Linked DNA regions of Homo sapiens. The protein of the gene in region 2 purifies or fractionates together with the protein of the main gene of each other region. This does not show direct contact. Each region holds a gene or a part of one and is shown on either strand. Other genes may lie near its edges. The genes, in order: CPLANE2, INTU and NCAPG.

What was found.
Region 1: the proteins of INTU (region 2) and CPLANE2 purify together in Homo sapiens (affinity purification with mass spectrometry; 3 studies listed by BioGRID and IntAct, with this or other methods). This does not show direct contact.
Region 3: the proteins of INTU (region 2) and NCAPG purify together in Homo sapiens (affinity purification with mass spectrometry; 2 studies listed by BioGRID and IntAct, with this or other methods). This does not show direct contact.

The regions. Positions count from the first base shown.
Region 1 is NC_000001.11:16,231,110-16,234,229, forward strand, and holds the end of CPLANE2 (ciliogenesis and planar polarity effector 2), read right to left. Parts: intron 2,656-3,120; coding exon 2,503-2,655; intron 1,909-2,502; coding exon 1,784-1,908; intron 1,538-1,783; coding exon 1,401-1,537; coding exon of another isoform or gene 1,390-1,400; intron 1,189-1,389; coding exon 939-1,188; 3' UTR 583-938; downstream 1-582. UniProt on the Homo sapiens protein: Required for efficient primary cilia initiation, regulating a late step in cilia initiation. Plays a role in the final maturation of the mother centriole and ciliary vesicle that allows extension of the ciliary axoneme.
Region 2 is NC_000004.12:127,642,829-127,649,956, forward strand, and holds part of INTU (protein inturned), read left to right. Parts: intron 1-692; coding exon 693-1,228; intron 1,229-7,128. UniProt on the Homo sapiens protein: Plays a key role in ciliogenesis and embryonic development.
Region 3 is NC_000004.12:17,813,941-17,821,068, forward strand, and holds part of NCAPG (condensin complex subunit 3), read left to right. Parts: intron 1-912; coding exon 913-1,058; intron 1,059-1,333; coding exon 1,334-1,418; intron 1,419-3,320; coding exon 3,321-3,513; intron 3,514-3,998; coding exon 3,999-4,148; intron 4,149-7,128. UniProt on the Homo sapiens protein: Regulatory subunit of the condensin complex, a complex required for conversion of interphase chromatin into mitotic-like condense chromosomes.

The DNA.
Region 1 (3,120 bases), on a different chromosome or scaffold from region 2:
ATTTGAGGTCAGGCGTTCGAGACCAGCCTGGCCAACATAGTGAGACCCCCATCTCTACTAACAATACAAAAATTAGCCAGGCATGGTGGTTGGCATCTGTAATCCCAGCTACTTGGGAGGCTGTGGCAGGAGAATCGCTTGAACCCAGGAGGTGTAGGTTGCAGTGAGCTGAGAGTGCACCACTGTACTCCAACCTGTGCCACAGAGCAAGACTCTGGAAAAAAAAAAAAAAAAAAAAAAAAGGGCCCTGCAGCGCGACGGGCTTAACTCCTGGACTCACAGGTGGACTCCATGTCCCAGCCTCCCCCACAGCGCCACATGACCACATGACTGCTGGGTGCTGGCCTCTGGAATGTGGGCAGAATGAGGTGCCACCCTGGGCCTGGTCCACAGAAAGCGGGGGGACACCTCCTGCCTGCACTCACTCCCTGGCTGCTGACTGGGTGCTGACACCCTAGGGCAACTGGGCAGGGTAGGGTCTCTGGGGCTGGGTCTCTGCAGGAGCGCCTGGAGCAGAGCCCCACGCCCACTGTCACCTCCTCCCGAGCTGAGGCCTACGTGAGAACGAACACGTCTCTGGAGTTCAGCACTGGGATTTCGGGGTTTATCTGTTACAACAGATGGTGTCACCTCAACCAATACAGGTTCTTGATTGAAGTAACTTGAGAGGCACCCCCTCTCCCAGTCATCCTCCATCGGTGCTGCCAAAGGGGGAAAGGCCACGGGAGATGTTCGAGCTCAGGGCCTTGGTCCCCACCTCCCTGCCATGAATTCTGCAAGGAAAGCGCTGCTCGCGGGTGGGCCTTCTCTGGCCACATCCTCCCTGATCAGGCCATGCTGGCCAGTCCTCCAGATAGGATCCATGTTCCTGCCCCAGCCTCCAGCCCTATGTCGAGACCTGAGGGTTGGGGGTGGGATCACAGGCAACCACTCGTGACTCATTCAGGAGCACTCTCTGGGGGGTTGGGAAGCAGGCCAGCCGCCACCTGGTCCTGGTGCCACAGCTGCTCAGCAAGGCCATTGAGTATGTGGGCAACGTCGGCCAGCCCAGCCCGCCCGTCCAGTGTGCGCCCATCAGCCAGCCGCCGCCCCGGCACACTCTTCACCCGTAGCAGGGGCAGCTCCCAGGCCTGCCGGAAGGCTGTGAGGTCCCGCTCGGGCACGTCCGTGTGCATGTACTGGTCAAATCTGGAGGAGGGTCAAGGAGCCTAACTGGGTGCCTCTGCACAGCCCCCCATCAGACCCTGCCTCTCCCTCCTCCCTGGAGCCCACACCCAGGAGCTGGGGTAGCCATGCTGTACCCTTTAAGTAAAAGCCCAGGTGCTGAATTCCATGCCTGGGCAGAGGCTGGGCCCCTGACCCCCTGGCTCCGTGACTTGCCAAGGATATCCAAAGGATACTTGGAGCCGATGACCATCCTGACGACACCAGGGGCCTCACCTGCTATGCGGGCCAGCTGTCCAGGGAGGTCTTCAAAGGAGGCACGGTCAGTGAAGGAGAAGAGGAAGAGGAAGGCATCTGTGTTCTCCATGCAAGCCTGGTGATGGAGAGGCATATAACCATGTCACCCCCCATCAGCTGCAGGGCCCTCAGAAGAATCAGGAATAATCCCTCCTTTCACAGATTGGGAAACTGAGGCCCAGAGCAAGGAGCGGCTGGTCCTAGGACAAGCATGGGCTGGGACTGTCTCCAGTGCCAGCTCAGGTCTCTGAGCAGTGCCTTGAGCTCATTAATACCCAATCGGCCCCTGGCAGAACCCACCCAGGCCCACATGCCTGCTCACCAGCAGCATATGATCGAACTTTTTGAGTGCAGACTCTCCACAGTCCCAGAACTCAAAACGAAACATGACGACACGGCTGCTGGCCTGCAGCTTGGCTGGCCAAAATACCACGGTGGTCTGGATGCCTGAGGGGGAGCCAGGGTCAGCCACTCACCATGGGAGAGGTGGAGATGGGAGGAATAGGGGACCAGGAAGGAATAGGAAGAAGAGATACATCCCTGCCCTGATGGGTCCCTAGTTTGATGAGGGAGGCACAGTCCTTGACCCGGGATAATTCTCAGTCTGATGGGAGAAACAGAAACTGGCCCTGGAGGAGACTCTGGTACACCAGGAAGATGCAGCCCTAGCTATGGCAAAGCAAGTTTCGTTTGTATGTCCAGGGAGACCCAAAGGGCCCAGGACGCTGGGAGATGTTTCAACATGGTGGAACAATCAGCATCCAGTGGTGAGAAACAACAAAGCAAGATTAGCATTTCCTGAGCATTTACCTTGAGCGTAGCTTGATGCTAGGCATGTTACCACCACCACCACCTCTAGTGGCAACCACACAACAACCCTGTGGTACTATTATCCCCTTGGGACCAAGGAGCCCATGTAGGCTCAGAGACGTGAAGTGACTTTCCAAGGCTACAGAGTAAGAGGTGGTCCAGGGCCAGGTTCTTGCCTCCACCCCCAAGGAGGGCCTCCCAGGATGGGCAAAGGATAGAGGTCCCACTCACCGGTGGTCTCGTGGTGCACCACAGGCACCTCCAGGCCAGCCAGCTTGGCCACCAGCGCCGTCTTGCCCACACCACTCTTCCCGGACACAAAGATCTTGTAGCTGGCAGTGTCAATGGACACAGGCGGCAGCAGCACTGGCCGCTCAAGCAGCCCTAGGGCAAAGAGAGAGCCAGGCAGGGTCAAGGGGTGCTGTGGTTTGAAGGTGTCCCCCAGAGTTCATGTGTTGGAAACTTAATCGCCAATGCACCAGTGTTAGGAAGTGGGGCCTAACACAAGGTGATCAGCTGCCCTCATAAATGGATTAATGTTGTTATTGAGGGAGTGGGTTTGTTATAAAAGCCAGTTTGGGCGCCTCTTGCTGTCTTGCTGTTGCCCTTCTGCCTTCTGCCACGGGATGACACAGCATGAAGGCCCTTTCCAGATGCTGCTGCCATGTTCTTAGACTTCCCAGCCTCCAGAACCATGAGCCAAATAAGCTTCTGTTCATTATAAATTACACAGAGGAGGCCTGGTGCGGTGGCTTACACCTGTAATCCCAGCACTTTGGGAGGCCAAGGCGGGCAGATCACCTGAGGTCAGGAGTTCGAGACCAGCCTGGCCAACATGGTGAAACTCCA
Region 2 (7,128 bases):
ATGAATTATGTAATATGTGCTTTTTTTTTTCTACTACAATTTTTCATAAAAAGGAGTTTTATGGAAATTATAGACAGTAAAGTGATCATTACTATATTAACTGTGATTATAAATGGGTTGTTTTCAGGACAGATTTTAGTTCATGGTGAAGTGAATGTTTCTTTTTTGAAAACTTATGTAAAAGTCTGTTAAAGCTGGCTTTAGCTTTCATTTTAACCTGACAGCCATCCTAAATAATTTCTATGCAAATAATAGATTTTCATGTACAATTTCCAAATGGCATGCTTGTGTGGATATAATTGCATAATCAACTGCTAATGCAAATTATCATTCAGTGAAATTGTTTAAAGTGAGCAGTAACCACACAGTGGTTGATTTAATTTTTTTCAACTCATAGATTCTATAAGGGGACCATCTCTTTTTTCATTGGTTTTCCTTTCTATTGCTATGCCTTTTTGATTCCTTCTCCCCCAACTCCTATTCAAAGCTCTACAAAAAAAGCATCCTATATGAAATAATGTTGAGGATCACAATAAATTAGAAATAGTAAGGATAATTTGAAATAATAAAGAAGTTTCACCCTTTCCCATCTTCCTGCTCCCCAGCCCCAACCCTCACCCCCATGCCAGGATGACATACCTTTCTTTTATATATTGGGCTGCTATTAAGATTATCTTTTCTCTCTTTCATAGTGATCTTGAGCCTGAATGGCTGGACAGTGTGCAGAAAAATGGAGAGCTGTTTTATTTGGAATTGAGTGAGGATGAAGAAGAAAGCCTCCTTCCTGAGACACCAACTGTGAACCATGTCAGGTTCAGTGAAAATGAGATTATCATTGAAGATGACTACAAAGAAAGAAAAAAGTATGAACCCAAACTCAAGCAGTTTACCAAAATTTTAAGAAGGAAAAGACTTTTACCCAAGCGCTGCAATAAAAAAAATAGCAATGACAATGGACCAGTATCCATTCTAAAGCATCAGTCCAATCAGAAGACAGGAGTCATTGTCCAACAGCGATACAAAGATGTGAATGTTTATGTAAACCCCAAAAAGCTAACTGTTATCAAAGCCAAAGAGCAGCTCAAGCTTCTGGAAGTGCTGGTTGGAATTATTCATCAGACCAAGTGGAGCTGGAGAAGAACCGGAAAGCAGGGTGATGGAGAGAGGCTTGTGGTTCATGGCCTGCTGCCAGGGGGATCTGCTATGAAGAGCGGTCAGGTACTCATTGGTAAGTGTTGCTGGTACACATCCATCCCTGTTTACAGAGATCTTGATTAATGATGACACCTTGCGGGAAATGTGATAAAAACAATTATATACAGTCTCCACAGATAAAGAACTGATTAATGACATTTGGTACAGTAGAGAAATGGTTACACATGGTGCACTACAAGGCACAGTGTTCTTAAAATGACCAGTTCAGTGTGTTGAGTATGTGTGTGCCTTGTTCAGGCCAAGAAATAGCTTACCTAATTTTCAAGTTTTGAATTATATAATTTTATTTCATCTTGGTTATATTTGCTGACAAGAAAAAAAACGTTGATCATAGAGTGATAATTTAGGTTTGAATGGCTATATCCAGTAACAGGATACAAAAATATATAATTTATGAATAAAAATACTTTTAAATTGTATGTTTGCACTTGAGTACACTAAGTTCTTGGAGTGGTTTTCAACTGTTTCATTTGGCATATTTTGCAACAGTGGTGTTATATATAAATTTCCTTTTAAGGGCGTGTGTCATAAAATATATCTGTCATAAAATAGCCCACCAATTTTCAAGAAAAATAAACCCACAAATTATTCTGAATATATATTAAGATGAACATTTTGTGTTGCTGATAAATTTTAAGCTGTTAGATACAATGTTTGAGTTAGTAGCAATCTAATTACTTAAAGATAAATGAGTAAAATTTGAGGATATATTATTACTAAAATTTAAAAGTAATAACAGTTCTAAAAGCTGACAGTCTTTTAAGTTTATCTAGCATAAGAGGTTTAAATGAAGAACATTTACAGATAAATTTACAAATATTTCCAACTTTAAATCTGAATTTCATTTGTTTGTTCACTGATTTGACAGTTTGTTTTTTTAGCATCTGCTAAGTGCCAGGAATACAAAGATTACTTTACTGATCCAATTATTTCTTGAAAGGAGCTATGTTTTAGTGGAAGAGACGGGTTACAGATAGGCAGGCAGCTCCTCACTGTCTGATAAGTGTCATCATAGGGGTTTACAAGGAGGATCATATGGAATCTTGTAAGAAGGGCATCTGTGGCAAAGTATGTGTTCCAGAATGATCTCAACAGGATCTGCACACTTTCTTAAAATGTAGTGTTGATACTCCTCCCATGGAGAGTTGTGCTCTGTGTCATTGAATCTGGGTGGGCCGGTGACTACAGCTTAATTGGTGCCATGTGACTTAAGAGGTTGGATCATAAAAGGTGATGCAGCTTCTGCCTGGTTATTTTGGGGATACTTGCCCTTAGAACCCAGTCACCATTGTGTGAAGAGGTCAAGACACCAGTGATCCAGCTGATAGCCCCAACTGAAGCCCTCGCCACCAGATGTGAGTGAGAAGCCTTTAAGATGACTCCAGCCCCAACCACCATCTGCCTGTAACTGCATGAGGAATCCCAAGTGAGAACCACAGCTGACCCCAGTTAACCCCAGAACCAGGAGAGATGATAAATTATTGTTGTTGTTATTTTTTTATTTTTTATTTTATTTATTTATTTATTTATTTTTGAGATGGAGTTTTGCTGTTGTCACTCAGGCTAGAGTGCAATGGCACCATCTTGGCTCACTTCAACCTCTACCTCCCGGGTTCAAGCGATTCTTCTGCCTCAGCCTCCTGAGTAGTTGGGATTACTGGCACCCACCACCATGCCTGACTAATTTTTTTGTATTTTTTAGTAGAGATGGAGTTTCACCATGTTGGTCAGGCTGGTCTTGAACTCCTGACCTCAGGTGATCCACCCGCCTCAGCCTCACAAAGTGCTGGGATTACAGGCGTGAGCCACCGTGCCTGGCCAACTGTTGTTGTTTTAAGCCTCAGAATTATTTGGATAGGCCTGGCGTGGTGGCTAACACTTGTAATCCCAGCACTTTGGGAGGCCAAGGTGGGCAGATCACTTGAGGCCAGGAGTTTGAGACCAGCCTGGCCAACATGGCAAGACCCCGTGTCTACTAAAAAATACAAAACTTAGCTGGGCCTTGTGGTGCATGCCTGTAATCTCAGCTGCTGGGGAGGCTGGGGCACGAGAATCACTTGAACCTGGGAGGCAGAGGTTGCAATGAGCCAAGATTGTACCACCGCACTCCAGCCTGGGGGAACACAGTGAGACTCTGTCTCAAAAAAAAAAAAAAAAATTGTTTGGATGACTTATTATGCAACAATAGATGACTGGAACAGGGGCTAATACATACTTACATTCTCTTGGGTCCTCTACTTTCCTTCTTGTGAAATGATAGGATAGAACTAAATATCTCTATGGTTTGTTCTTTTAGTTCTGTAAAAGGAGCCAGAATTCATTTAACGTGCCCCCCTTTCAGTGGTGTTTCCTGTGAGTTGGTAGTTAGATCTTGAGGCCTATCAAACATATTTTATAGGTGGTCTGTGTGCTTCCATCAGGAACAACATATTATCTGCTGTTTTTCTTTTTGTGATATTAACAGTTATTGATGATCATTGCCTAAATCCATTAATTCATTAAGGGACTGCAAAATGGTGATATTCCAATTCTGTCAGTCTTTCTCAATATTTCAGTTAGACTACTTTCATAAAAAGAAGCTCCCCCTCACCTCTGGTAACCTTGACATATGGTTTAGACAGGAAAGGCAGGATAAATGTCTGATTTTTCTTCATTTAACAGTTTTCACAAAAGCAAGTTGGTACCATTATTCAAGGACTTCAGAATGGTAGGTTGGGAGGGGCCTTAATTCTCTCTAGTTTGGTGCCCACATATTATAGACGAGGGGTTGAGATTGAAACTCAAAAAAAAATAACAAAATTTATTGTTAGTAAATGCATTGGCAGAAAACATTGAGTTTTGAATGTATAAAATGGCAGTATAGTAACTGCTTTTCAAAAACCAGATTCCCTTTCCCTGAAGTCAAATTTGGCTTAATTAAAAGGATCAATTTCAATTCACAATTTGATCTCATTTTTCTGTCCCATACATATGTGCCACTCCTTCTATCCATAAATCCCCACCTCTAACAAGCAAGCCTGATTTATTTTTTTCCTAACTGACCTCCAGATACACCTTGTGTGTCCATCTTTGCTTTTTAGCATTCGTGATTCCTTTTTTGGTGCATCACAAAGATTGCTTTGTATTACTAGGCTAGTGCATTCATCTTCTATTGCTGCCGTGACAAATTACCACAAACTTAGTGGTTTAAAACAATACAGATTTATCATCTTGCAATAATGTAAGCCAGAAATCTAAAATGGGTCTTCTTGTATGAAAATCAAGGTGTCCACAGGGCTACATTCCTTTTGGAGGCTCCAGGGAAGAATCCCATTCCTTGGCCAGCTTTCAGAGGCTACCTGCATTCTTTGGCTTGTGGTCCTGTCCTCCATCATCAAAGCCAGCAGCATAGCATCTTCCAGTCTCTCTCATGCTGACCCTGACACTTTTGCCTTCCTCCTATAAAGACCTTTATCTTTACCTGACGATCATTCGGATAATCCAGGACAGTCTTCCAATCTTTTAAGTTAATTACAACTGCAAAGTCCTTCTTGCTGTGTAAGGTAGCATATTCAGAGATTTCAGGGATTGAAACATAGACATCTTTGGGGGGCAATTATGCTGCCTACCTCAGTGGGGGGTTTTTTGGTAAAATATGAGTTTTTTTTCTTTTTGTGATAGTAATAATATACGTTCATTGTAGACAATTTAGAAAATACAATTAAGCAAAAAAGAAAAATTCCATATACCCAAAGACAACATTTTGTTATATATCCTCCCTTTTCCTACATTTATATACAATAATCTTTTGTCAAAAATAATTTAAGTTGTATATTCATTTTATATATAGTATAAACACAGCAGTAAACAAACTTTTGCATATATATTTTCATAGCCCTTGGTGCCTTATGTAGTAGCCCTTTAGTACACATGTTGTTTGATGTTAAGTATATACTGAGAAATTGATGGCTTTTCTCACATAATTTAACTTTACATTGAGGAACTGTGATAAACTGATCTCTTTTTAAAATATTTTATTTGGTTCTTAAATATATCTCTTAATAAAAATTTTCTCATATTTCTACCCAGGCCATTTCTTATTTAACAATGCAAATCAATCATATAATTCATTCCCTTTTAGCCTTTGAAATGGGACAGATCATATTAATGACTCCCGTGTACTTATGGAGAAAGACCTTTCCTTGGGTTTAGGATGTCCACTGCAAAGGTGCGATGTCCGGGAAGCCAGCCATCTCTGAGTCACTTCACAGAAGTGTTCAGAAACACTAGAGGAAAACAAATGTCTGGGAGAATGAGAAGTGGATATAATATTTATTTCATAGAATGGGAAAATTTTCTACTAAACATTTAAAAATATTGGGTATACTACACTTGCTTTCAGAATTTATTTTCATATATTTTTATGATGAACCATCTCCTCTTTTTAGAGGTTTGTTAGACTTGATAATTTTAGATAATACTCCCTATAACACTCAGCTACAGGAATGTATTCATTAGGATTTGGAGAAAAAAGTCATTTGGCACATCATCCAATGGAGTTTTAGTTTAAAGTAACAAATTTAAAATGTTTTTACTATTTCTGTGCCCTGAGGATAACAAACTATAGACAACAGAACTAATCATTAGGATAGTCCAAAAGTGGTTTCATTTTACATTGACACAGCTATACTGTGTCCATCATTCCTTTATTTTCTTTTAATCACTACAGCTATAAGTAATTTGATATAGTACTTTTGTTTAATCTCTTATATAGGAGAAATTAAACAGGCATCTTGTTGTGTTTTTTTTTTTCCAAGTGGACTTCAAGTTGAAAGTTTATTTTGGTCTGCAAGTTCTTACTTTTAAGAAAAGTTTGTCCAAAGTGCTGTAATAGTTAACCATCATAATGACTTGGTGCCCATGCTTGCAAAACTCCCATCTGAGTTGTATCTCTTGAGCATCTAAACCTAGTTCAAGCCTTCACAGTTGGCCTAAGAAAGTACTCCTGCTTACTCTGCACTTAACCCCATTCTCATTCAATAGAGTATCAAGGAGAGGAAGGAAAAAAAGGAGGAATAGCAGTACCTACAGTGGCAACATTTTCATCTGTTTGCCAACCCTACAGATGGCCAAGTGATGCCTAATAATGGGTTGCCTTAAAGGAAAGGAACTCTGAACTTAGGGAACACCAATCTTTTATAAAGAACAGTTATTAATAATAAGATATTGAGCACAGCATTGACCTTATTATACCATTCAGTAAACAAGCTTGACCTTTGCTCAGGATGGAAACATATCTCTGTTGTCCAAGGCTGTTCATTACACGAACGTCTTTGAAAAGACAGTCTAGAACAAAGACTCTCAATGCCTCGGCTTGTAAGATGTACAGAAACATGAGACTCATGAAGAATTATCTACCAACACGATTCTACATATACAGGTTGAGTACTCCTTCTTCAAAATACCTGGGACCAGAAGTGCTTCCAATTTTTTTTTTTTTAATATTGCATTATACTTACCTGTTGAGCATCCCAAATCTGACAATCCTAAATCCAAAATGCTCCAATGAGCATTTCCTTTGAGGGTCACGTTGGTGCTCAAAAAGTTTTGGATTTTGGAGGATTTTGGATTTTCAATTTTTGGATTTGGGATACTTAGCCTGTATACATGTTTATTATCCATCTTCCCCAAAGAATATTAAGCTCCCTGAGAGTAGAGATTTTGTCTTTGTTCAATTCTTTGTCTCTAGTGCTTAGAAGAGTGCCTGGCACACATTAAGTGCTCAGTAAATATTTCTTAAATGAATGGATGAATATGAATTATTTCATCAATTTCCTAATAATATATTTAGGAATGATGAGAAAAATAACTTTGGTATGTCTATATTTCTATTAATATAGCTCACTGGTATTTTGATAGTATCTTTAATTATGT
Region 3 (7,128 bases), about 110 Mb from region 2:
TTAAAAGATACCCATAATAATATTGTGTAAAACATAGGTATTTGATAGTCAACCTGTACTTAATAATTGAGGTAGGAAAGATGTGAGAAGTACAGATAAATATATTTAAATATAAGAAATGGGTTTGTTTCAATGAATAAAACCAAAAAATATTTCCTTTTAGGTCTCATTAAAAACCAAAATAATGGGCCCTTATAAAGCCATATCAGTTTAAAATAAACTGTCTGCTATAGTAAGCTTTCTCTTAAATATTGAGGAGTAGCACAGACATAATCTTAATGATGAATTTTCTGTGACTTTTAGGGCTATTTGTTTTCACTTTTGGCCTAAGAGCCAGTCCGTTGACTAATTCCCCCTTGTGTCTTTAGAAGGGAAGTTGGTGGCCTGCGCAGCAGTGACTCAGGCCTGTAATCTCAGCACTTTGGCTCCAACCTGGGCAACATAGTGAGACCTTGTCTCCAAAAAAAAGAAAAAGAAGGAAGTTGGTGGGAAAAAAACTTCAACTAAAATATGTGAGACTAAAAAAATGACATTACTTTCTATTACAGATGGGTTCTCACTCGGGCTGGATTGCAGAGGTGTGGCCTCAAACTCCTGGGCTTAAGTGATCCTTCCACCTCAGCCTCCTAAGTAACTGGAAGCGCCACTACCATGCCTAGCTAATTTTTTATTTTAAAATTATTTTGTAGAGACAGGGGTCTTTCTATATTGCTCAGGCTGGTCTTGAACTCTTGGCTTCAAGCTCTCCACCTACCTTGGCCTCCCAAAGTGCTGGTTATAGGCAGTAGCCATCATGCCCAGCCTATCTTTATCACATTAAAGGCATTTTAAAATATCAAAATGTGTGTTATTTTATGACTGTAGTTAAATAAATAATTTCATCAGTACTAAAATGTATTGCTTTATTTTTAGCATATGCTACTTTGATTGAAAATGATTCAAATCCAGAAGTTAGACGGGCAGTGTTATCATGTATTGCACCATCAGCAAAGACTTTGCCAAAAATTGTAGGGCGCACCAAGGATGTGAAAGAGGCTGTCAGAAAGCTGGCTTATCAGGTAAATAAGTTCAATGTCTTGTGTTGGCATATTCTTAAAGGACAAGGAGCCATTTTCTTAAAGTGCCTTTGAAAAATACTTGGCATGTAATAATTTCTTCAGTTGAGGTTTTATGGAGAACACAGGTAATTTAGGTAGAATCTTACTGTATTAAGTATGTTACCAGGTATTAATTTCTTTTGGAGATTCTGGGTAATTTTCTAAGATGGTGATATTCTTATGAAATCTATAAATTGTGTTGAGGTTAATGACCATCTTTATAAATTATTTTTAAGGTTTTAGCTGAAAAGGTTCATATGAGAGCTATGTCCATTGCTCAGAGAGTAATGCTCCTTCAACAAGGTCTTAATGACAGATCAGGTAAGATAAACAACTTTATATATACAAAACTTTAGTAGATTTTGAGGTCAGACTTAACAAGGTTTAAGAAACGAGTGTCAAATCAGGTCAAGTAAGCCTGCCAGTCCCATGAACCTGGTGAAATTTATCTTGATGTATTATATAGAAAACACAGGGCTAAAGATTTTGATATATATATATTTTTGAGACAGAGTCTCACTCTATCACCCAGACTGGAGTGCTGTGGTGCAATCTTGGCTCACTGCAACCTCTGCCTTCTAGTTTCAAGCGATTCTCCTGCCTCAGCCTCCTGAGCAGCTGGGATTACAGGTGAACATCACCATGTCTGGTTAATTTTTATATTTTTATAGAGACGGGGTTTCACCATGTTGGCCAGACTGGTCTCGAACTCCTGACCTCAAGTGATGCACCTACTTCAGCCTCCCAAAGTGTTGGGATTACAGGTGTGAGCCACCGCGTCTGGCCAAGATCTTGGTATTTTGAAGGAGCAGAGCTTATTTCTTTCACCCTTTCTGTATTTTACAGATGGAGAAACAATACTTAAGTCTGTAGAGCTAATTCATGTCAGAAGTAGGAAAAGATCTATTTGCCCTCTCTCTCTGACTTAAAAAAAAAATGCTGTTCCTTATGTGTATACTTTGGTATGAATGTGTTCTGTGTATCAGAAACAACAAATAGGAATGGTCAGACCAGTATAATTTTCTTATTTTTTTTTTTTTCTGTTAGAGTAGAGTTCCCCAACATTTTTGACACCAAGGATCGATTTCATGGAAGACAGTTTTTCCACAGAGGGCGGGCTGGATGGTTTCCAGATGAAACTGTTCCACCTCAGATCATCAGGCATTACTTAGATTCTCATAAGGAGCGTGCAACCTGGATACCTCATGTGCGCAGTTCACAATAGAGTTCCTGCGCCTGAGAGAATCTAATGCATCTGCTGATCTGACAGTAGGAAGAGCTCAGGTGGTAATGCTCGTTAGACCACGGCTTACCTCCTCCTGTGCGGCCCGGTTCCTAACAGGCCACAGACTGGTACTAGTCCGTGGCCCAGGGGTTGGGGAGCCTGAGAGAATCTGCTTATAGGAATGATATTTTTTGAAGTTTTTAACTCTCATGAGAAGGCCAAGATGGCTCTATTGCGCTGTAGTGAGAAAACCGACTTGCGTTTGAAAACATTGTCAGAGGACTAATTAGTAGGATGACCTTAAAAGCTAAGACTAAGGTTTGTTCAGTGACGTGTGCTTGTATAGTTCACTACTGCAAATAGCAATCGTGTAATAGATAAAATCAGATAACAAGTGAGATAATAGCTATTACATATTCTGGGCTAACACCTGAAGCCCATTGAACCCAGGGGAGAAGGAATGTAAAGATATTTTTGTAGGCTGTGGTATTTGGTGCTGAACCTTTTCCATTTTTATTTGTAAGTGACCATTACAGTGACTTTTGCAGTATCATGGTACTTCTTTTTTTTTACCTTTAATATGCTTAGTTGGCTGGGCGCTATGGCTCACACCTGTAATCTCAGCACTTTTGGAGGCCGAGGCAGGCGGATCACGAGGTCAAGAGATTGAGACCATCCTGGCCAACATGGTGAAACAAAAATTAGCTGGGCGTGGTGGCGCATGCCTGTAGTCCCAGCTACTCGGGAGGCTGAGGCAGGAGAATCGCTTGAATCTGGTAGGTGGAGGTTGCAGTGAACCAAGATCGTGCCACTGCACTCCAGCCTGGTGACAGAGCGAGACTCTGTCTCAAAAAATATATATATACATGCTTAGTTGTGCCTCTTAACCTCTACTATTTCTATTGTAAATACTGACTTTGTTAATTAAAACAGACAAAATACAAGAGATGGAAGCTAGAGGGAGCCTTTGTTCACCTATGTTTCAAATGACTCAATAGATGCTGTGAAACAAGCTATGCAGAAGCATCTTCTTCAAGGCTGGTTACGGTTCTCTGAAGGAAATATCTTAGAGTTGCTCCATCGGTTGGATGTAGAAAATTCTTCTGAAGTGGCAGTCTCTGTTCTCAATGCCTTGTTTTCAATAACTCCTCTCAGTGAACTGGTGGGACTCTGTAAAAACAATGATGGCAGGTACATAAAGGATTCATTCTTTGAAATGTAGTACTGATTAACTTGTGCAATTAATTTGTTTTTTTTCCTCCCCATAGCTTAAGATTATATTAATACCTTTAATCTTAACTCTCTTTTGTTTTCTTTTAGTCTGATGAATATCCTTTTATCCTTCCTTTTTCCCCTCCTGGTGTAAGAACTCATAACTTTATCATAGACTATCTACTTTAGCTATGCTTTTCCCCCCTTCAGTTTCTTACTTTGATTTTTGAATTAGCCTACCATGAGAAAATCCAGCAACATGCACCCCTAGTATATGTTTGCTTATTTGGTTCTTTTTTGTTCTAAGTTTCTTCATTCCTTTTTGTGTGGATACATTAATGACTCTAATTAAAAGGATAGTGTAGTGGTTTTAAAGCAAATCTTATTATTCTCATTTTTGTACTCTTCAATTCTTAATGATAAAAAGATCATGCTTTCTCTCACACTCTTTCTTTTAAATGAAGGAAATTGATTCCAGTGGAAACATTAACTCCTGAAATTGCTTTGTATTGGTGTGCCCTTTGTGAATATTTGAAATCAAAAGGAGATGAAGGTGAAGAATTTTTAGAGCAGATTTTGCCAGAGCCTGTAGTATATGCAGACTATTTATTGAGGTAAATTTTTTTTCTTTTAGTTTGGAGAGTGATTGTGTTGCTGCATGTGTCAATCTCCCAGTCCCCTTCCTCAAAGTCATGTTTGATTGTGAATATGTTAAAAATCCTTTTTTTGTACATGTAGGGATAGTTATATACATCGAGTCTTTTTGAATATCTTGTGCTGGTCTGTATACTGAAAGAGCAAGTCACTATGTTTAGGATCATTTCTTCAAAACTGTTAAGATATGATTATGACCATTTCTGCATAAAGTTGATGATGATGATATATTATTTCTGAAATTGGTTGGCACATTTTCTGTTAAGTGTCAGATAATAAATATCTTAGGGTCCTGTGGGCCATACCGTCTGTCACAATGACTCAACTCTGCCATGGTATTGTAAAAGCAGCCAAAGACAATGTAAGTAACTGTTTTTCAATAAAACTTTTATTGACTTTTATGGCCACTAAATAGTTGAACTTTAATATTCATGTGTTAACAAAATAAGAAATTTTAAAAAATGATCAGTTAAAAATTTAAAATAGTCTTAGCTTGCAAGCTATATAACAGGTAATAGGCTGGATTTGATGCACGGAACATTGTTTTCCAATTCACAGCGTGGATCTTTGTGGCCAGTTTTATTTATTAAAAACTTACTATCTAGCTTCATGTTTTAAAGTTTTTTCAAAATATGCCTTTTTAAAAAACAATTTGGATTACCATAATTATACCTCTTAAGAAATTATTTGGATTACTTTATTTCACTTTAAAATTATACAAGAAAAACATGAATGCATTCTTGTCAAAATTCAAATACAGAGGTATAAGGAATAAAAATGTGGAATTCCCTCTTTTATTTCCTACTTCCTCAATCCCATTGATTAGCAACTAAGTGTATATTCTAGCAACCCTTAGAATTAGCAACTAAACAATATAGGGTGTATATTCAAACCTCTTTCTCTGCATTTATATACATTTTTTGAGTACAGGTTTCTTTAAAAATATAACACTGTGTATATACTTTTTTTTTCAACTGATAACTGAGATCATTATATATTGGTGCATATATAATGTAATAGATACTGTTACAGTCTTAACAGCATATCATTCCGTAGTATGGTGGTAACATTTAATTTATTCCTCTGTTGATGGACATTTAGGATGTTTCCATTTTTCACTGATAAAAGCAAAAGTATGTTAAATTTCCTTTACATTTTTGGGTACCTTTGGGATTTTTGGGGGTTAATTCCAAGAAATAAGTTGCTACACCAAAGGATAATATATGTATATTTTGATAGATATTGGTATGTAGGTTTTTAACTTCAACTTTATGGTTTATTTTTTTTTTTTTGAGACGGAGTCTTGCTCTGTCGCCAGGCTGGAGTGCAATAGTGCAATCTCGGCTCACTGCATCCTCCGCCTCCCGGGTTCAAGCGATTCTCTTGCCTCAGCCTCCTGAGTAGCTGGGACTACAGGCACGCGCCTCCATGCCCAGCTAATTTTTGTATTTTTAGTAGAGATGGGGTTTCACCATGTTGGCCAGGATGGTCTCAATCTCTTGACCTCGTGATCTGCCTGCCTTGGCCTCCCAAAGTGCTGGGATTACAGGCGTGAGCCACAGCGCCCAGCCTGATGTATTTTTTTAAAAAAGCTTCCATATAATATGAATTATGGACCTGAATTATCTGTATGAAGTACAGTTCTCTGCTTTTGTTTAAAATGATCTCACATAAAAGTTAGGCAGCAAAGCTGTGCATGCCTCTAAATTTCCCCTCAAAAATCCTAAATCTAGGATAAGTATCTCAAATGTGAGCCAGTAGGGAAACTATAGCTCAAGCCCATGTTAACATCATGAAGAACCTGTGTGAATCTAATGAGCATTTTAATGTTAATTATTTCAGACTTTGACATTTAAGTAGGGAATTCATTATAATGCTGTTTGGGCCATGTTGAAATGTTTCCAAAAGGAATGAGTTTGTGGCAAAGTTTAATAATATATATAAATATAAAAGATGTTTATAGAAGGTAGTGAAAATATAAGAAAATATGAGGAAATGTTAAATATTTAAATGGCATAAAGGGGGAGGAGTTTTCCTCAAGGACAGCATCAGAAGGTGACTTGTAAAAAGCTTGATTCCTCCCTTCTGAAAGGTCAGGGATTAACATTTCCTTTGTCACTCTCTTAGTTTTGAAATAAGTAACTTTAACCTCTTCGACTTATTTTCTTCACCTTTAAAGAGGAAAATTTTCGGCTGGGTGCGGTGGCTCATGCCTGTAATCCCAGCACTTTAGGAGGCTGAGGCCGGTGGATCACGAGGTCAGGAGATCGAGACCATCCTAGCCAACATAGTGAAACCCCGTCTCTACTAAAAATACAAAAAAATTAGCTGGGCGTGGTGGCAGGCGCCTGTAGTCCTAGCTACTCGGGAGGCTGAGGTAGGAGAATAGCGTGAACCTGGGAGGTGGAGCTTGCAATGAGCCGAGATCGCGCCACTGCACTCCAGCCTGGGCAACAGAGCAAGACTCCGTCTCAAAAAAAACAAAAAAAAGAAAACTTTCAGAAATTTATTTTAGTGATTGTTGAAAGAATACCTAAAAAATAGAATGAGTGTCTTTTTGGAGGAACATGACTAGATGGGATTAGTATACTTGAGTACAGAAACAAAATTAAATTGAAAAATTGTTTCCTGATAATCTCAGGAATATGTTTTCAGGCATACTGTATATTTTAGGCAGTAGATTCAATGACTAAGAACTCTGATGTGAAACAATTTTGGTTAACCAAGGTGCTCACTTAAAGAGCAAACGAGGAAATGAGGATTATCAAATTAGAGTAAGTAAAAGGGACAACAATAAAATTTGTTGAAAGCCATCTTAAATATAAATTCTTAGACTTTAAAATACTTTCTTGAGTGGTCTCTTCATTATAATAAATGTCTTTATAAATGGTTAGGATTTCATGGTAACTAAAATTGGTGGGTCAGTTTTAAGTTGTATTT